Linked DNA regions of Homo sapiens. Changing the gene in region 1 together with any one later gene gives a genetic interaction. Each region holds a gene or a part of one and is shown in the gene's direction. Other genes may lie near its edges.

Evidence for each region. A genetic interaction does not mean that the proteins touch.
Region 2: changes in XRN2 (region 1) and EIF4G1 together harm fitness more than expected from each alone (negative genetic interaction), as found in Homo sapiens cells (one large-scale study listed by BioGRID).
Region 3: changes in XRN2 (region 1) and CDC40 together harm fitness more than expected from each alone (negative genetic interaction), as found in Homo sapiens cells (one large-scale study listed by BioGRID).
Region 4: changes in XRN2 (region 1) and NCBP1 together harm fitness more than expected from each alone (negative genetic interaction), as found in Homo sapiens cells (one large-scale study listed by BioGRID).

Annotation. Positions count from the first base shown.
Region 1 is NC_000020.11:21,385,696-21,390,759, forward strand, and holds the end of XRN2 (5'-3' exoribonuclease 2), read left to right. Parts: intron 1-1,172; coding exon 1,173-1,311; intron 1,312-3,577; coding exon 3,578-3,643; 3' UTR 3,644-4,130; downstream 4,131-5,064. UniProt on the Homo sapiens protein: Possesses 5'->3' exoribonuclease activity. May promote the termination of transcription by RNA polymerase II.
Region 2 is NC_000003.12:184,323,506-184,328,571, forward strand, and holds part of EIF4G1 (eukaryotic translation initiation factor 4 gamma 1), read left to right. Parts: coding exon 1-88; intron 89-274; coding exon 275-472; intron 473-695; coding exon 696-842; intron 843-1,372; coding exon 1,373-1,609; intron 1,610-1,763; coding exon 1,764-1,868; intron 1,869-1,974; coding exon 1,975-2,134; intron 2,135-2,190; exon of another isoform or gene 2,191-2,266; intron 2,267-2,345; coding exon 2,346-2,446; intron 2,447-3,021; coding exon 3,022-3,124; intron 3,125-3,375; coding exon 3,376-3,478; intron 3,479-3,710; coding exon 3,711-3,943; intron 3,944-4,080; coding exon 4,081-4,199; intron 4,200-4,324; coding exon 4,325-4,497; intron 4,498-5,066.
Region 3 is NC_000006.12:110,213,827-110,218,892, forward strand, and holds part of CDC40 (pre-mRNA-processing factor 17), read left to right. Parts: intron 1-1,459; coding exon 1,460-1,505; intron 1,506-3,875; coding exon 3,876-3,977; intron 3,978-5,066. UniProt on the Homo sapiens protein: Required for pre-mRNA splicing as component of the activated spliceosome. Plays an important role in embryonic brain development; this function does not require proline isomerization.
Region 4 is NC_000009.12:97,635,721-97,640,786, forward strand, and holds part of NCBP1 (nuclear cap-binding protein subunit 1), read left to right. Parts: intron 1-5,066. UniProt on the Homo sapiens protein: Component of the cap-binding complex (CBC), which binds cotranscriptionally to the 5'-cap of pre-mRNAs and is involved in various processes such as pre-mRNA splicing, translation regulation, nonsense-mediated mRNA decay, RNA-mediated gene silencing (RNAi) by microRNAs (miRNAs) and mRNA export.

The DNA of each region.
Region 1 (5,064 bases):
GGAGGAGAGTGGGGGTAGAGAGGATGGATTCAGGCTTGAATAGCTGTGAGAAGAATGCTTTACCCAATGAGCCCAGCGCCGGGCTTTTTTCCCCTAAGACCTCGGAAGTGAAATTCTTATGCTGATATGGTTATAACTGATTACCAGCTAGTCAGCACTTCAGTGAATTTAAAGTTTTATTGAATTCCTCCTAACATGGTCAGTGGCCCCAAAGCTTCTGATGTTCAAGTATACTGGAGCATTTGCCTCTGTTTATTCTTTGTAGTGCCTTCCATAAAATAGAAGTTATGGAAAGTGCCTTAAGGAGAAAGTAAAGTCTTAAATGGTGATTGCCTTTAGAAGGTATATCCTTGCTACATTGTTTATGTGACAGTTTTTAATTAAGTTATGATTTAGTACATTATACCTGTTGCTTTGCATCTGCAAAGTTAAAATAGTCACTTGAAGACAATTAAAACATTTCTTTCGACTAGTAATCTGCGACAGCAAACTGGGTTATAATAGCCGTTGAATCTGTGTTCCCATGTAAACTGTACACCAAATGCCAGTCAGCCCATGCCAATTAGTGCTCATGTTGCTAGGTCACCGTGGTCAATTGAAAGCTGCATCAATAGAACTTGAAAAGGTTTCCTCCCAATCAGACCTTCTGACATATTGAACAGAATAATGGATGGGAAAAAACAGCCAAGTCTCCTACCCTGGATTCAAAATACTCAGCAGTAAGAATTCATTTGCAACCTGCAATTAAGTAGAAAGAATGGATCCAAGAACGAGTCTGGACATTTTTGAAAATAAAGCCTCATTCTCCTGTCTTGTACATGTTTACTCTTTGGATAGCATCTTAAATGTAGCCATCTTGGTGATCTTGGGTCTACATCTTTAAGTGACTAAAAAGGAAATTTCCCAATTGAAAATGAACAAAATAACTTTTAAAAGTCAGAACTTCTCAGTTGAGTTTAAACATCCATTGTAATAAATGCTGATGCTTCATGAAACATGTTAGATTATACTGGATATAAGGGACACAAAGGCCATTCTGATACTCTGTATCCCATATGATAAATCCAGGTAAATTGGATTGTACTAAAATTTGGAGATGATACCTGCCGATTTTAGGCTTTGTGCTGTATAATAGGTGTGGCTTCTGATGTAAAACTGGTACTTTCCTACAGAGGCGTTGGGGCTGAACCTCTGCTCCCATGGAACCGGATGCTGCAAACCCAGAATGCAGCCTTCCAGCCAAACCAGTACCAGATGCTAGCTGGGCCTGGTGGGTATCCACCCAGACGAGATGATCGTGGAGGGAGACAGGTAAATGGTTGTGGGATGAAAAGTATACTGCTCACTTTATATTTCAACAAGCCTCACAGGACTCCGTATTTTCTTACCAACATTTCTGGAGAAGACACTGATAGAGTAGCTTAGAGTAGCTTGGCTGAACTTGGGTCTGTCATTAAAAATGTATATGGGTTGAGTACCTGCTTCACTAAATAGGTTATATACCTTGAAGATGCCAAAGAATTTCTAACCCAAAAGCCCTTTAAATCATAGCAGTCAGTGATAATTAGTCCAAGTATAGTCAGTCACCAAAACACATTGTTTTTCCTTTAAGGATATTGTTCTTCAATAGAACCTAGATCCCTCTTAATGGGTGATGATTTTCTGGAAGCTGGAAAGTAAGTCTGCTTTTTCAGCTGTTGTCTTTTAGAAGTCATTTTACAATGTTGTCATTTTAGAAGTCTCCTGCCTTGATTCATCTGATATCCCTCCTCATAAAAGAAATTTCTGCTTGATAATCTTCCACATATTTTTCTTCTCAATGTAAGCAGCTGTATCACTGAATGACTATCATAATTCCTAGACAAATTTAGTATATGTAAGCTTCATGTCCTTCTCTTTACAGCATCCAGTTTTAGCAGCATTTAAGACTGAGGTCTATTTGACATAATTTCCTCCAGCAATTTGACACCCTGGCCAGTATTTACATGCTCTTAATGGAATCCTTACTAGAGAACAAGATTAGAATGCTGTGATTCAGAGTAATGTGTATGGAGTTTGGCACCTGCAGTGATGTGAAGTGGTTTTTAAATTGCTTACCTGGTGTTGCCTCCAGGCCTTTTGCAGTGCTTCACATATTAATTAGTAAGACCTCTCTTCTCACAGCTAAGGAACATATTTTGTATGTTTTTTGATGTATTCTTACAAGTATCTCCACCTTACAAGAAGATAATCACCTTAATTGCAAATAATTTCTTCTGAGATTTTGTTACAGTTTATTTGAATCAGTTTATCGAATTTTGCTTTGAATTCTTTCAGCCCAGGACCTCTAAAAATCGTGTCAGTGAACTAAGGCTCTTTATGTTACTATGGTTAGATGGCACTAGGCCGTTTCAGTGATGAGCATTTTTGAAGTGAGGACTATTTGTAACTGGAAGAAACCTTGGAGAATGTGTAGTCTAGTCACCTCATTTTCCAAGTCAGGAACTGAAACCCTGAAAACCCCACACGGTTCAGCAGGAGAACTGGTAGCTGGCTGCCTAGACTGCTGACCCCAGTTCATCCATTTTCCTCTCTCCTTTGGAGATCTTCCTTTTAAAGGAACTCTGTGCTGTTACAGGAGGTAAAATTCTTATTTACTTAGAAGATATAAACCAATTGGTAAATTTATTATTCTTTTAGGACTTTTTGAAAATAACATTTCTTCTTTCTCAGTCCCTTTGCCAGGGAGATACTTTTTATTAAATCACAATTGTTGAAGCACTATTAAATTGCAGAAGTTTGTTGTTAAAAACATAGAATCATTACTTCATTGTATTTTTAGTAAAGTTTTATATGACCAAACAAGGCCTTAGCCTGCATTCTGGCCTTGAGTCTGCACATGTTCATGTTTAAAGTACTGAAGTGCTCTCTGGGTGGCAAAATGAGGTGGGAGGGGGTTCCATTTCAAAACCCTAGAGGCCTAGGAAAGGACTTATAATGAAGAGGTGTCAGGTTTATCTTTTGTTATACAGAAATGTTATTTGCAAACATACTAGGATATGTTATAAAGGTCACGGCTAATGGATTGTGTAATAACCTTAATATGTCATTTAAAGCCCTACTATTTGTTGCTAAATAAAAAATCCCTAAAATCAATTGCTCATTTGGCCTTAACTGACTTAGCAAGCTCTTGCCTTGGTTAAAGCAAAGTTACTTTCCTTGTGTAATAAGTCTAAATTGATGTGGGTATCTTACCACAAAGTGACTTGAATTACTACTGCTAGGACAGTGAGAAAATTGAGAACCACTGTCTGTACATGTTGTTTACACAGAACACTTTAGTTATTTGTGTGCATTTGTGATTGTTAAGGTTTTTTGTTTTATTTTTCAGTAATAGCATTTGTGCTAGCCTCCAACTTTGCAACAAGTCTGTATTAAAGCTCTGGATCAAAGCACCTTTTATGGGGCCTTTCCATGTGCTGTACCTTTAACACATACTCAGTTTCCTTATGATGTGTTTTTCCATAGAGGTTTAAAGTTAACTGACTTGCAGGAGTATCGGTCCAGAAAATAAACTCTTTCTTTTGTTTATTTTCAGGGATATCCCAGAGAAGGAAGGAAATACCCTTTGCCACCACCCTCAGGAAGATACAATTGGAATTAAGCTTTTGTAAAGCTTTCCCAAATCCTTTCATCATTCTACAGTTTTATGCTATTTGTGGAAAGATTTCTTTCTCAAGTAGTAGTTTTTAATAAAACTACAGTACTTTGTGTATTTCTTTTAACTGTGTATATTTCTACTGATCTGATCTCACTGTTTATGTTGCTTTCCAAAGATGTATGTTGCATAATACAGTGGATCTGAATTTATTATTGCTTATAAAACACATTTGATGGAATAGGAGTACTGGTTTTTCATAATGGTTAAAAATGAAACCAGCTGTGGATTTCAAAACACAGTGTATTCTAGATCATCTAAGATCCATGCTGATTTTTATTGCACAAGAATTAGGTTTGAACTCGAGCTGGAACCTCAGCAAACTAGAGTATATATTGTTCAGTATTTCTTTGGAAACATTTCATTAATGTACTTGTCTTACAGAAATTTCTGAACTTTAGTAAAAAAAAATAAAGTTAAACTTTTAAAACTCTGTTTTGTGTTGTTATTTTGCAGTATTTCAACTTTGAAAATCTTGACCAAGCGTGGTTTTTTAAAATTAACTTTTGCAGAAAACTATTTCTGTAATCAGATGTCCAAACCAAAGGACAAAGAAGTCAATGAAGAAGTAGATTTTAAAAGATAGGGTCAGCAAGACATAACAAAAGCTTTAACTTTGTTGTATTATGTCAGTGACTGATCTGGCTAACTCAGAAATCTTTGTGAGATAAATTACATTTTTACAAATTTAATGTAGACTTCTCCAGTTTTAAGGACTTGTTTTAAATCTTCAAGTTGACAATTTTAATTAATGGCCAAATAGTCTATGCTCCTTAGCATATTTTTGTATGTCATTAGATTGCAATTTGTACTCATGTTTTTCCTTGCTACTAAGTACACTATAAATTGCTTAAATGTGTGTTTGGAGTTCACATACAGCACTTACATATGCATTTTCATTTGATTGCCAAAACATATTTAGACACACATACAGAGACTATTGCTTTGTTTCAGTTTTTCCCTCCTAGCCCAAGATTGTGAGGTAAAGCTTCTCTTTGACCTCCTGACTTAGGATATTTTTGCTTTAATATTCAACTGAAGCACGCTTGTTAAACTTAGTCTGTGGGAAAAAAAAAAATCTCACCTCAACCTTGAATAGGAAGGTATTTTGTAGCTATTGAGTTCATTGCTAATGATGGGTGACCAGAGCAGGATCCTTTATTGTTGAGACAAAGAGTCTCTCCATCAGGAATTACCAACCCAACCCTTACATAATTGCCTTCGCTCAACATTCAAGTGATAATGCCTTCTATTAAATTTCTCTGTAAGTTTATCTCCCAAATATTAAAAATGTAGACAGCCATCTCAGTAAAGCATTGCATATTCTAAAGGAGCTTATAAATGTTTTACTGTTTATAGTTCATAGT
Region 2 (5,066 bases), on another chromosome or scaffold:
AGCAGAGAAAGCCTGGAAACCCAGCAGCAAGCGGACGGCGGCTGATAAGGATCGAGGGGAAGAAGATGCTGATGGCAGCAAAACCCAGGTACTGGCAAGTCCTGCTTTTGGTCTCTCTCCATTTCTTCTCCAGGTCTGCCATCTGTGCCCTCTTTGCTTCTTTTTGTCCTTATCACTAGCATCTGTCATGCCTAAGTCCCCACCACCCTCTCCTGTCCCTCCCAACAGCCTGTTCTGAGACCCTCACTGGAACTCTTGTCTCTTCTCCCTCCAGGACCTATTCCGCAGGGTGCGCTCCATCCTGAATAAACTGACACCCCAGATGTTCCAGCAGCTGATGAAGCAAGTGACGCAGCTGGCCATCGACACCGAGGAACGCCTCAAAGGGGTCATTGACCTCATTTTTGAGAAGGCCATTTCAGAGCCCAACTTCTCTGTGGCCTATGCCAACATGTGCCGCTGCCTCATGGCGGTTAGTTTCCAGTGGGTTCTAAATCTAATGGTCTGGTTGCCCATTCCTATTCCCAAGACTCCTTGAGTCCAGCTTCTTGGTTCCCCTCCAACTTGTGCCTCTTCCAGCTGGAAGGAGGCAGAGCTGGGGCCAGAGATCTTCCTGGGTCAGGTAGTTAAAGGCTCTTGGAGGGCCTTCCCTGCCCAGGACTAGTCTTGAGTGTGACATTCTCTCTGACCTACAGCTGAAAGTGCCCACTACGGAAAAGCCAACAGTGACTGTGAACTTCCGAAAGCTGTTGTTGAATCGATGTCAGAAGGAGTTTGAGAAAGACAAAGATGATGATGAGGTTTTTGAGAAGAAGCAAAAAGAGATGGATGAAGCTGCTACGGTGAGAGAAAACCCACTATCGATTCCACTCACCACTTACCTCCTTCCCTTACCCAGATGCTACTCAGCTGTAGAATTTGGAATGGAGGTAGTGGTGTCTTGGGGATTTCTCTGGCTCAGGACGTTTTTTTTCCTTTTTGAGACAGTCTTGCTCTGTCACCCAGGCTGGAGTGCAGTGGTGTGATCTTGGCTAGCCTCCACCTCCTGAGTTCAAGCGATTCTCCTGCCTCAGCCTCCCAAGTAGCTGGGATTACAGGCATGTGCCACCATACCTGGCTAATTTTTTTGTATTTTTAATAGAGACGGGGTTTTACCATGTTGGCCAAGCTGGTCTCAAACTCCTCCTGACCTCAAGTGATCCGCCTGCCTCAGCCTCCCAAATTGATGGGATTACAGGCATGAGCCACTATGCCCAGCCAGCCGGCCTCAGGACTGAGTGCTTATTGCTAGGTTTGGATATCCAGGTAGAAAAGGGTTTTAGCCGAGTGGCTGGTTATCTTTTTGACACAATCCCTGTCCTGTGAATGGCAGGCAGAGGAACGAGGACGCCTGAAGGAAGAGCTGGAAGAGGCTCGGGACATAGCCCGGCGGCGCTCTTTAGGGAATATCAAGTTTATTGGAGAGTTGTTCAAACTGAAGATGTTAACAGAGGCAATAATGCATGACTGTGTGGTCAAACTGCTTAAGAACCATGATGAAGAGTCCCTTGAGTGCCTTTGTCGTCTGCTCACCACCATTGGCAAAGACCTGGACTTTGAAAAAGCCAAGGTAGAGGTCCTTGCATCTGGAGGGGGATGGGCTGAAGCATATGTGGGGCTCACTGAGCCCACAATGATGGGGCGGAAGGCCTGAGGAGGGGTGGGGCCTGCAGTTATAGGTGGGACATGAGAAGTTCCTGGTCTGATGCCTTTCTCCTTCCTAGCCCCGAATGGATCAGTATTTCAACCAGATGGAAAAAATCATTAAAGAAAAGAAGACGTCATCCCGCATCCGCTTTATGCTGCAGGACGTGCTGGATCTGCGAGGGGTGTGTGTCCCCCTCCTCCCCACTGCCAGCCTGCTGCCTCCAGTTTCTGACACTGCCTTGTCTTGCCTTCCCTGACATCATCGTGACTGGCCCTCTGTCTCCACAGAGCAATTGGGTGCCACGCCGAGGGGATCAGGGTCCCAAGACCATTGACCAGATCCATAAGGAGGCTGAGATGGAAGAACATCGAGAGCACATCAAAGTGCAGCAGCTCATGGCCAAGGGCAGTGACAAGCGTCGGGGCGGTCCTCCAGGCCCTCCCATCAGTGAGTTCCAAGCTGGGATTGAGAAGGGAGCAGTGAAGGGACCGGGAGGTTATACTTTCCTCTGATGACTTCCTGTTAGTGCCACGTGTCTGGGCCACTGAGACACCATGATGGAACTGAGGATCTGAGGAAGGGAGGCTGGGGGTGGCCCAAGGGGAAGGGGCTGCTAGGATTTATTCATTATTCCAGTATGCCCCTCTTTTTGTGTCAGGCCGTGGACTTCCCCTTGTGGATGATGGTGGCTGGAACACAGTTCCCATCAGCAAAGGTAGCCGCCCCATTGACACCTCACGACTCACCAAGATCACCAAGGTAGGGGTGTGTGTGGGAGTGGGTGATTCAGCTCAGGTTTAGATCTTAGTCCCTTCACTTTTCTAAAGTTGAGAAGGTGACAGCTGAATGTTTCCTCTTAGACTAACTGGTTGGATTGCTGGAGACAGGACTGCCAGCTGTAGAGGGAGGGTGGTACTCCCATTAGTCTGGACCAGTGTTTGGCAAACACACACACACACACACACACACACACACACGTGCCAGATCCAGCCCATTCATACATCCCAGGACCCAGTAGTGGTTTTTACATTTTAAAGTTGCGAAAAATCAAAAAGTGAATGGTAATTTATGCTGTGGAAATTAAATAAAATGTAAATGTCAGTGTCCATGAAGTTTTATTGGAACACAGTCACAGCATGCCTTTATCATCTACAGCTGGTTTCATGCTACTGTGGCAGAATTGAGTAGTTGCAATAGAGACTGGCCCTTTATTAAAAAAGATTTTCTGACCCCTGGACTGGGCCATTCACTACCTGTTTGGTTGCATATGGTGGTGCTGGCCAAGGGACTCAGCCGGGTTGGACCTATGATTCTACTCCCCTTTTCTTCTTCAGCCTGGCTCCATCGATTCTAACAACCAGCTCTTTGCACCTGGAGGGCGACTGAGCTGGGGCAAGGGCAGCAGCGGAGGCTCAGGAGCCAAGCCCTCAGACGCAGGTATGGAGGCAGTGTCAGGAGCTGGGTGGTTACCCGTCAGAGCTCCCTTGAGGACAGAGCCTTTTCTGTTAGGGAGGCCTTCAGTACAAGGTGGTTAGGCAATGCGGGCAATAGAGGAGGTTTGTGTTGTGGTTCCAGGGATTGAACTGCTTTACTTTTGGGACTGGGACCAAGTGTCCTAAACTGGCAAGTAGGGGATAAAATGCAGGAAAGGAGAAAAAGATTTTAATACGGATTTTCTGCATCCCCAGCATCAGAAGCTGCTCGCCCAGCTACTAGTACTTTGAATCGCTTCTCAGCCCTTCAACAAGCGGTACCCACAGAAAGCACAGATAATAGACGTGTGGTGCAGAGGTGAGGTTTCCTGGACATCTTTGTTATTCACACTGGGGGTACCGTGATTGGGTTCTGGTTGTTGCCATAGGTTGGAAATTTCTTCATACCTGTCCTGGTTGGAGCCCTTGGGTTAGATTGGGGCATACTCATTATGCTAAGAACAAGGCCCAACAGTTGCTCAGCATGTTGTGTAATTACATGAGTGCCTGGGCAGTGCAAGTGAGTGAAAATTTGTCTGTCTGTCTTCCAGGAGTAGCTTGAGCCGAGAACGAGGCGAGAAAGCTGGAGACCGAGGAGACCGCCTAGAGCGGAGTGAACGGGGAGGGGACCGTGGGGACCGGCTTGATCGTGCGCGGACACCTGCTACCAAGCGGAGCTTCAGCAAGGAAGTGGAGGAGCGGAGTAGAGAACGGCCCTCCCAGCCTGAGGGGCTGCGCAAGGCAGCTAGCCTCACGGAGGATCGGGACCGTGGGCGGGATGCCGGTGAGAGTCTGGGAGAGGAATGGAGGGAAAGGCATTGGCTGCCTTGGGACTAGCTGGTCCCCAGCTTTTTGAGAGCTCCAAATCTTGTTTGCTGGGAAGACTGAAAAGTCCCTCTAATCTGTGTTCTCTTCCCACAGTGAAGCGAGAAGCTGCCCTACCCCCAGTGAGCCCCCTGAAGGCGGCTCTCTCTGAGGAGGAGTTAGAGAAGAAATCCAAGGCTATCATTGAGGAATATCTCCATCTCAATGACATGAAAGTAGGCAGTGGGAGCGGCGTGTGATTGAGGAGTGGGCAGGGAGGGATCATGCTGGCAGGCATAGGGGTCCGGGGTCTGGGTCAGACAGTGACTGGTCTCTTCCTGCTGTGCCCTGCACCCCTCAGGAGGCAGTCCAGTGCGTGCAGGAGCTGGCCTCACCCTCCTTGCTCTTCATCTTTGTACGGCATGGTGTCGAGTCTACGCTGGAGCGCAGTGCCATTGCTCGTGAGCATATGGGGCAGCTGCTGCACCAGCTGCTCTGTGCTGGGCATCTGTCTACTGCTCAGTACTACCAAGGGTATGACCAGCTTCTCTGGGCCTCCCACTTATACAGACCCACAATTTTCTATCTCCTTTTTGGGACCCTTGGAACCTTGCATAAGAGTGTAGGTTCCCTGGCCGGGTGTGGTGGCTTATGCCTGTAATCCCTGCACTTTGGGAGGCCAAGGTGGGTTGGATTCCTTAGAGGATCACGTGAGGTTGGGAGTTCTAGACCAGCCTGGCCAACATGGTGAAACCCTGTCTCTACTAATAATACAAAAATTAGCCAGGCGTGGTGGCACAGTAATCCCAGCTACTCGGAGGCTGAGGCAGGAGAACTGCTTGAACCCGGGAGGTGGAGGTTGCAGTGAGCCGAGATCGTGCCATTGCACTCCAGCCTGGGTGACAAAAGCAAAACTGTCTCAAAAAAAAAACCAAAAAACAGTATGGGTTCCTTGACCATCCTGGTCAGCATAACTTTAGGGGGTTAAGCGGGGTGAAAACCATCTAAGGACACAGAGGTGGCCTTAGCTTGAAATAATTGTCCCCATGTCTAGAAAATGTTCCTGGGGGTTCCATAGTTGATGCCCTAGCCATGCCACGTTG
Region 3 (5,066 bases), on another chromosome or scaffold:
CCATCTTTAGCTTCTGTTCAGTCATAGAATGTGTGGTAGAAAAAACTCCGTTGCCAATGCATCTCAACCTGAATATGCAGGATGTCTTGAAAAAAATTTTGAATCTGAAAGGATAGTTCTTACCAGTTTTGTGTCTTCTCTTTGTCCGGACCATGATGATGGTTCAATAAATACCAACCCTATAGTGCTCTTGGGGCTTGAAAAGTTGAGTCATTAAAATTTTATCATTTGTAAATAATTCATGGATATTAACAATAAAAAAGGCCACTTTTTTTTATAAGAGCAACCATTTAGGCATTTGTCTCTAATAGCTTAAAATGACAGGCCAACATTTTGGAGTAAAAACCCCCATTTTACTTAACTTTTACTTTTACTTTGTACAAACCATGTTAATTGAGATGTTGGTCTTTTCTTTGACCAACCAAAAAAGCATAGAATTCAATTAGTTCACTTCTATAAACATTCTATTATGTGCAGGGGACTGAAAGTAAAAGCTTATAAAGGCACTGTCCCTCCCCTTAGGATGATCATTTTATTATGATATAAATGATTATTATAGAGGCAAGCACAAGATATGCTGGTTTCAAAGAGGAAGCATACCTTAGTAAGTTGGTTAACTAAGTAAAGGATGAGGAAACAGGAGTAGAGTATGCTTGAAAAGAGAATGGATCAGCATGGTGTGTGCTGAAAATAACAGTTTTGTGCTTGCTGGAGCATAACATCTAAGAGACAAGGAATGATTGCAGTCATGAGCAAGAAACCAGGTCTCAGAGGTCGTTTCCTAGTATGCTACAGTAACTGAGACTGTGTCCTATTGGCACCAGTGGCAAGGAAATGCTTTCTATTTTAGAGTACTAGCAACATTGTTGAGAATTGGATTCAAGGCAGTCAAGAATAAAGCTAGCCTTGAAGCTATTGTATTAATCCACCTTAGATATGCTGAGAATTATGAGCCTTTTATTTTAGTCTAGATCATCATTTTCTTACAGCTTCTGTAATACTTGTTATTCAGAAAAGTAAACAGAAAAGGCTTTCAGTATCAAAATGTTATATACATGGCAGTTTTAATAACAATTCCTTTAAACGTCATTTGTAGTGCTACAAAAGTAGAAACTTTTCATCCTAGAAAATGTATGAAATAGAAAAGAACAATATGAAAATGAAAACTTACCTGAATTAACTCCATCTATAGTTAAGTCTCTTTTTTGATGTAAATATCTTTAAAACTCTTTAGTTTTGAGCGTGTGTGACTCTGTGTGTGTGTGTTCCAAATAATATAACACAAACTGGCAGCACCAAGCTATATTTAATGATATTCAGTGTTTAATATTTAATGATTGAAGCTGTGCGTTTACACACACAGATGTGCACACACATAACCAGCATAGGGCTGTTGTTATTAATTGAAGGACCTTTATTAAATGTAATATTTCCATGTGTTGTTTTTTTTCTCCCCCAGCTATGGGAGGTTTATGGAGAACGGCGCTGTCTGAGAACATTTATTGGTAATGCTTCTTTTCTCTCCAACATAAATCTGGGAAGAATTTTTAAAGTAAGATAACATCATTGACAATAACTTTACTACACCGATAGGAAGTAAACTCTTCATAGATTTCAGCTGAATCTGGAAGGAGGAGTCAGTGTCCCCAGTTAGACAAAGAAAGAGAACTAGGAAGCAAGAGCAGCGGATGCAAAACAAAAATGGTGTGAGACAGCGTGCTGCTGAGGGGATCCACGTACATTTCAGGATTGTCAGAGTATGGGGGATGGTGAGAGACAAAAGCGGAGAAAAGTAGCAAGAGAGGGACCAGAGTATGGAAGACCTCCTGTGCCATTAATAAAGAGTTTAGCCTCTGTTGTGAGGGCATTGGGGAACCATTAAAGAGCTCTTGCCGGAAAGCAACATGATTTGAAGTTTACAAAGATCAAATGGCAATATGCAGGATGATTTGGTAGGGCAAGCCTGGAGGAAGGGAAATTAATTACACAGTTATTTCATAGGTCTGGTTTAGAGATGATGAGCGCCTGAACCAAAGCAGCAGAGAGAGAAAAGAAAGGAACTACGTATTAGAGTTAAAGTCAGTGAGATTTAGTAACGGCATGTGAATGATCACAGTGAGACAGGAATCTAGAGTGACTCCCATGAGGCTGGATGAACGATGGTGCCATTCACCAAGAAGGAACATAAGATGATGGTAAGGTTTTAGATACACCAAATTTGAGCTGCCTTTGGGATATTGAGGTAAAAATGTTCAGTAAGCAATTAGATAGCCAGAGGTCGAGCTTTGAAGAGAGACTGGGAATTGACAGCTAAAGCATAAAAAAAGGATGAGATTGAGAGAACTCCTTGAAGAAAGAAAGAAGGCCAAAGGGAGGACAGCTTTGTGACAAACCAGATTTTTGGTAGAGAAAGGTTTATTGTCTTTGTCAGATTTCATGTGAAGGCTAGTTACTCATTCCAAATTTAACTGTACCACGTTGAAACGGTGTGACTCGTAGTGGCTCTGTTTTTAGATTAAAGTGGGAGTCTGTTCAGCAGTGCTTTATGATTTTAAGGCCTCCCTGCACAAATTAATACTGCCTAAGATGTCACCGCAGCCTAAAGGAAGACTTGTGGAAGGCTCTCAGCTGTGTACAGGGGAACAAAATGTCTCCATCAGATAGAGTGGATTTGGTCCGCATCTGTCTCCCCTCTACTGGCAGACCATTTTTCTGTGGAAAACTGAAATTTTCCTCCTGAAGGAGATGATAGAAGCTCTGACTGGGACTCCAGCTGTAGAAAAGGATGCCTAATTACCATGACACGTACCTCCTGATGGGAGTTCACTGGAGGTGATGGTTTAGAGCTGCTGCATGTGGTTAACAATTTGTGCCATGCTCATTTTGCACAATTGTACGTGTCTTGGTCATGGTGGGGTGGCAAAAATAGGAACATTTTTGCTTTTGTTTAGCCACATTTTATTTTTCCCTGTAACTTTTAAAAGAGTTGAGTGAACTGGCAATATTCATTTTTAAGTAAAGTATAATAATCAGCACCTTAAAATTAGTGTATTATCAAAATATCATCTTAAAGCAAAAGAAGGTAGCCTGGGCAACATGGCAAAACCCTGTCTCTACAGAAAATACAGAAATTAGCCAGGCGTTGTGGTGTGCACCTGTAATCCCAGCTACTCGAAAAGCTGAGGTGGGTGGATCGCTTGAGCCAGGAAGGTTGAGCTTACAGTGAGCTGAGATCCAGCCACTGCACTTCAGGCTGGGCAACAGAGCAAGACCCTATCTCAAAATAAAAATAAAAAACCATGCAAGCTAATATAGTTTTCAGAAAGTCTCCTACATTCTGAATCAGTTTCTATGAAATTTGGTAATGTGATCACAGAAATATACAATTATTGAACAAGGGCTACAGTTTCCTGAACTTTAGGTTTGGGGCACTTTGTTTTCACTTGCAGCCTGGTGGACATTCTGAGAGTGAACCTCCAAAATTCCAGCAGCCATTTCTTTCACTGGCAATAATTGGTCTTTTACATTTCCATAAATTCTTGGCTAGCTAGTCATCACTTGTATGTACTGCATATTAAGTAATTGCTATGGCAGACTTAAAAGAAAAGTTAAACCTTTTCCTCTTGGTTCTTAACCAAGATGTTATGCATCAGAATCACCTGAGGAGCTTCTTCAAGGGGAAAAAAACGCCCACATTCTGAAGCCCACACATAACATATTCTAAGTCAGTAAATCAGGCGGTGGCATTCCAGTGATCTTGACTCACAGCTGAGAACCACTGCTTAGTGCTGTTTGTCTTTATGGTGTTAATGTTTTAAGAGAAGAAGATATATGATACTTCACCTCATTGCTGTTTCTGTTGACTCCACCTTTAGGTCACAGTAAGGCTGTTAGGGATATCTGCTTCAATACTGCAGGAACACAGTTCCTCAGTGCAGCCTATGACAGGTATCTTAAGCTCTGGGACACTGAGACAGGTAAGAGTTCACTTATGCTAATACACATTCATCTTACAAGTTATTTATATTTGAAATGGTGTGAGTAGTCTTTTGTGGCAAAATGGCACCTTCTCTAACTGCTGATTCTCATACCATTCACTGTCAGCAAATATCACAAAATACATTTGTAAGTCGAAACTGAGCATGAGTAGCTCTTTCACTGTGAAACTTGTTTCCACCAGATAGATTTTATAAAGCAAACGTACTGACAAATAAGCAAAGTGGAAATCTTGTATAGGCCATCTAATTGATTTTTTTGTTCCCCTACATCACCTAGCACTGTGCATTGCACATAACAGAAGTGCAATAAATGTCTAATGAACAAAATTAAATGTATTTGCGCAAATTGATTAAAATGTAGGTCTCAACTTTCACAGGCCAGTTGGTTTTATATATTCACAGCCATACTAATTGCTGTTTATTAATTGATTCACATTAATATGTTGTGGCTAGTATAATTTTATGTAATTATAAAAATTATCTTACTATCTTATTGTCTTACTGTCATTACCCTTACTGCATCTGAAGGGTAATGATAATAGTTAATGTTTATTAAACATCATTTAACAGGCATAATTGCTAAGCACTGATATTCAGTGTCTCCTTCAATCTTAATTTATCCCTATGAGGTAAGTACTATTATTATATTATAGATAAGGAAACTGAGGCTTAAAGAGCTAACTTTTTCAGGGTCACACAGCTAATAAGTAGCAGACTTGGGTTCAAACGAAGCTCTCTCTGATGCCAAAGCCCATATTCTTCAGCACTTTAGCAGTGGTTCTCAATTCTGGCCACACATTGTAATCATCTGAAGAGCTTTAATATTACTGATGCCTGAGTCCTACCTTCAAAGGTATTTATATAATTGGTATGGCTATAGACTAGATGATTGTACTGTGTAGCCAAGGCTGAGAGACTACTATTTTGCAGATTCTTTTAAAAATCAAGATAAAATACACATACAGTAAAATGTATGAAGTGCCTAAATATTCAGTGATTTTTTTTTTTTTTTTTTTGGTAAACATATCTATGCAGTTGTCTACCACAAAGATCAAGATCTAGAACATT
Region 4 (5,066 bases), on another chromosome or scaffold:
GATAATACAATTTTCATATGCTTTGTAATTGACTAGTCAAAAACTAATATACTTCTCAAGTCATTACTTGGGGGCTGGAGAACTTGAGTCTTTTGTTCTTTTCTTTGTTGTTCTAATGCTTCCTTTTTCTCACTTAGAGGTAATCCCTAAAGAGAGAGGAAATGTCATTGTAGGGCATCCTAGAGAATTGGAATGCTAATATGTAGAAAAATAACTTTTGCTTTGGTTATTGGGAGACTTACATAACTTTCTTGGAGTTGGCTTGTTTTTAACACCAGCTGGCAGCCAAATCACTGTCCATTTGGGTCTTGCCGCGAGAACCTCAGAGTAAATAAGACAAGTAAAACAAAGCATTCATTAAGCAAAGGTTTTTATGGTTGATATTTTAGTGTGGGAGAGGCAGATACAATTCATGTTTGATAATACAGCAAATCTGAAATTTTTGTCAGTTGCCACAATTTGGATAACGATCGCTGGAGTTTACCCTACACAGTGATCTGAATCAGATTATTTTGGATGCTTTCCTTTTAGTTAAAAATCTATTTTTTAAAAAATAAATCTTAGAAGCTTAAGGATTATAGAAGGCTATTTTAAAATAGGGTAGGAATTATTACAGTCAGAATTAAATAGATGCATCTGAGCATTTCTGGACAATTGTCAGCTGCTGTCAGTCACTGCCCTGACTTTCCGTATGCTTGACTCTCTATATATAGAGTGTGTGTATATATATAAACTATAATAGAATGTATTATATATATTTATATATTATATAAATTTATATTTATATATTATAAATTTATATTTATATATTATATAAGTTTGTTTATTATAAGTTTTATATAAATATATACTCTAATATATATTTTACATATAATTATATACTGTATATATAGAAGCAAGCATATGGAAAGTAATACATATATATATATATATATATATATATATATATATATAAAATCATTTATTCAACAAATACTTAACAGTGCCAAGCTCTGTCCTAATTACTTGCCATACAGCAGTGGACAATATAAAGATAGAGCCTCCCCTCTAGAGTAGAGAGAAGACAGTCAAGTAAAGTATAGTGTATCATATAGTGACAGGCGCTATGGAGTGATACCAGGTAAAGAGGGGAGAGATTTCTGTGAGGGAGAAGTTACTATTTTATGTAAGTTGATTAGAGAAGGCTTCGGTGTGAATGGCATTTGAACAAAGACTTGCCGGAGGTAAGGTAGCAGCCATATAGCTGTATGGGGAAAAGCTGTGATCCAAAGGTAACCATGGGCACAAAAGCCTGAAGACTATAGGGTTCCTGTCATGTTAACAGAAGAGCAAGGAGGCCAGTGGTGCTGGAGCAGAGTGAGTGAGGGGGAAGTTGTAGGAGATAAGATTAGAGAGATAGCAGAGGGTTGCATCTTATAGGGAGATTATAAAATTATACTTCTGTGTTGAGACTCGACTATCAAAGATTAAGGGGGGTAGGATTAGGAGGCTATACCAATGAAGTTCATGTAGTAGTCCATTTATAAACAAGGAAAAGGAAATGCTAAATGGAAAGTAATGTGTATGGATACTAGTCCAGTGCTAAATCTTAACTAATTGCTTAGACTTGCTTTAAAAATGTCTCTGAAGCTTTTTAGTTACTATGGGATATGCAGTCCATTGTTTGTTCTTTTAAGAAAGTATTTAGATTGTTCAAAATCTTAGCTAGAAACAATACGAATACAATTTTGGGAATTTGGGCAATTTACAAAAATTTCAGATTTGCTGTATTAGCCCCATTTAAGCTTCTTAGAATTAGGTCCTTGTCTTTTGGACTGTGGCTGATTTTTTTACTTAACTAAAGAAAAAAATAGAAGTGAAAGGATTTGTTATTTTGAGAGAGTATAGTTTATTTCAGAAGTGATGGTTGCCTGTTTTAAGTCTGCGGGCTCAAGGCATGTTATCTTTCAAGTTGTTCAATATCAAAATAGATGAGCCAAAAAGAAGGGAACAGTGTGCTTAAGGTTTAAAAACGTAATGTTGAAGTTGTTGGTTTTAGTTACTTTACTTTTCTATTTTACAGGGTTGGTTTTTGTTTTCCATTTTGTGGGTCTAAAATTTCTTGTAAGGCTATAAGATGTACAGTGTACCCGTATAAAATTAGGATTGACTTATAGAGGGGAAATTTATTTGGTTTATTAAGATCCTTTCAGATGGATTTTATACCTGCTTCTCTATACTAGCCAAGTCTGTCTGAGTGAAGTGGTAATGTTATCTTTAATTTACATTTTAAAACTTTTACATAGTTAAATTTTAATAAAAAATCTGTTCTTGCCTTGGGAACTACCATAGATACGTTTTCTTCAGGGTACATTGAGCGAATTCCCCAAATTGTATTCGTATTGTTTTATTTCATTTCCCTGTTCCCTTACCCAGGTTGTCTTATGAGTTCAATATCATGTTTCTGTTCGTAAGTTCAGATTTTGTCTGTAGTCTTCACCCCTTTATAGTCTCTCAACTATCAGGTGAAAGTGGAACATTTCTTACCTCTTAATACTTTCTGCCTCCTCCCATTCTCCAGACAAATATTGTCCTTTAATATAGCCAAAATGAACAAAGGGTTTGCAGTTCAGAGATGTGACTATGTACATGTATTTTCTAGTTGTTTCTCAGAAATCATACCTTCTCTTCCCACAGCACTATTTTCCCCTTTTCAAGCTTATAAGAGGGCCTAGGAGGGTTGCTTTAAAGGCTGTGGTATGATTCCAAACTGGAACAAGCCAGCTGGAAAGTTAAGTTAGGAAGACTGTAGAGGTGGAATAAAGGGTTGGCAAAATAGATGAGCCAGAAAGAAGGGAACAGTGTGCTTAAGGTTTAAAAAACAGCAACAAAAAATAACTGCTCTCATTCAGCTAGTTTTTCAGCATCTGCATTCTCCCAACCTCACTGAAATTTGGTTCTGAGGAGCTCTGCTTTCTAGAATACGGTTTCTTAACATCAGCACTATTGACATTCTTGGCCAGTTATTTGTTTTGGGAGATGCCCTATGCAACGTGAGATATTTAGCAGCATGCCTGGCCCCTACCCACTAGATGCCAGTTGCTTCCCCTAGTTTTGACTACTAAAAATGTCTCCAAGGTTTGCCAGATGACCACTGGGGGCAAAATCTACACCCTGTTGAGAACTACTGCTGTAGAAGAAGGCTATTTGAATGTCCTAGCTGGCAGCTTGCGTAAATATTACATCAATTATGCTTTTTTTCAATAAGTGAATCCTGGAAATGAAAGACCTTTGTGTGAAATTTGGCACTTTGGGTGGTGGAACCTTGATAGGTCCTGTGACTTAGGTTTGATCTATACTTAAGAATCAAGGTCCCTGAACCTCTGTGCCACACATGTCTACAACTTTACACAGGCAGATATCTCCAGGAATAAATACATCTCAGCTCTCATGCTGCATGCGTATTATACTTTTTGTGGCATTATCCTTTCAAAATTATAGTCAGTGGACATTCAGTCAGGTTATCATGGTAATTAATGGGTTGGGAAGTTGACGTACAGAGTGTCTTACCCTGTAACCTTTATAATACCCCCCCTCAGATCCTATGTGGATAGTAATAGATTCGTTTTATTCAGCTTCAGTTCATGTGGTATCTGAAGATCATTTCAGTCATTCAATAGATTTAACATTCCAAGCTTAGAATAGCCAGGTGCTGTGTTTTATGAGAATCACCATACATCATTTTCAAGCCAAGTGTTCCATAGGCAAGTAAGTGATTATGAACTTTGTAACAATAATTCCTTTGGCTGTTCAGATCTGAAGATTGAAGTTATATGTAACTTGCTACTGTGTAACCATATATCCAACTGCAGATTTTCATTATTAATACCGATTCCCTGCACAGTTACAGGCTCTTGCTTTCTTGTCCATATGCCGACCAAATAATTGAATCAATGGAAGTCGAAAATTGGATTGTATTAGACTAGCCAAAGTGTTTAGCAGCAGCATCAGGTTCCATACTTAACACTATTATTTTAATTTTTTAAGCTTTATGTTATACCACAAAAGGACTTAGGTGAGTGTGTTAAGGCTTTAAACAAAGTGGTAAGAGATACAAACAGCAAGGGTCTTAATAGACAGGTGTTTGAGGTTAATTTTTAGCACACCTTCATTCAACTTGAATTGTTGAGCAATCAAAAAGACAGATGCTTGGTAATGATTTTAGAATGGTAGATTTAAAAAACATAGAGATTATTCGAATGATATGGTTTTTAAATAAAGCAGTTATCAGTAATTCAGTTAATAAAAGCTAGTTAAAGCAGGAATTGTAAAACGTGGTCCTTTTTTCCACCAATTTTTTGATATAGTGCTCAGGACTTTTCTTTGAATATACGTATACTGACTGTCGTTCCCATTATTTAGGATAAACTATACCGTTGTGCTGCATCATATGCAGAACTGAAATTGTTAATTGAAGACTTGAGATTAGAGCTTAGAAACATGTGAAGCAAGTGAGAAATCCTAATGTTTTATGCTCCTTTTTCCCATCTTTTGAAGCTTTCCTCTTTATAGCTGATATGACAGCTTTTTTTTCTGATCAAGTCTTTCCAAAGCATTCGACTTGGTTTTGCACCCTTATTTTGTCATTTACATAATACATTATTAGACTAATGAATACTACTGGTACTAACAGGTTTCGGAACAAGCAACTGAGGATCAGTAAACAACTCAAGTTAAAAGAATGGGAGTAGCGGTACATGAGTATTCTAACTACTAGTGTTTAACATGTTGTTGGCAGCTTTCCAGCTTGTCCACAGAAATGGACAGGGCTGCTGATTGCATAGCTCCATGGGCACTACTCACACAAAATTTAACATAAATAATGCCTCCTGGAGTTATTGTATATAGTGGCTCTGGGAATGGGAGGCTGTTGGTTAATCTAGCTTAGTCTGAGAAATGGAGGGTCTGTGAAGAGCTTCTACTCTGTAAAAACATAGGGCCTGGTAGAAAAGAGATTATAACCTAAAAAGGTTAAATAAAATTTGTGATAGCAGATTTATCATGTAATGTTAATTTTTTATGTTGCT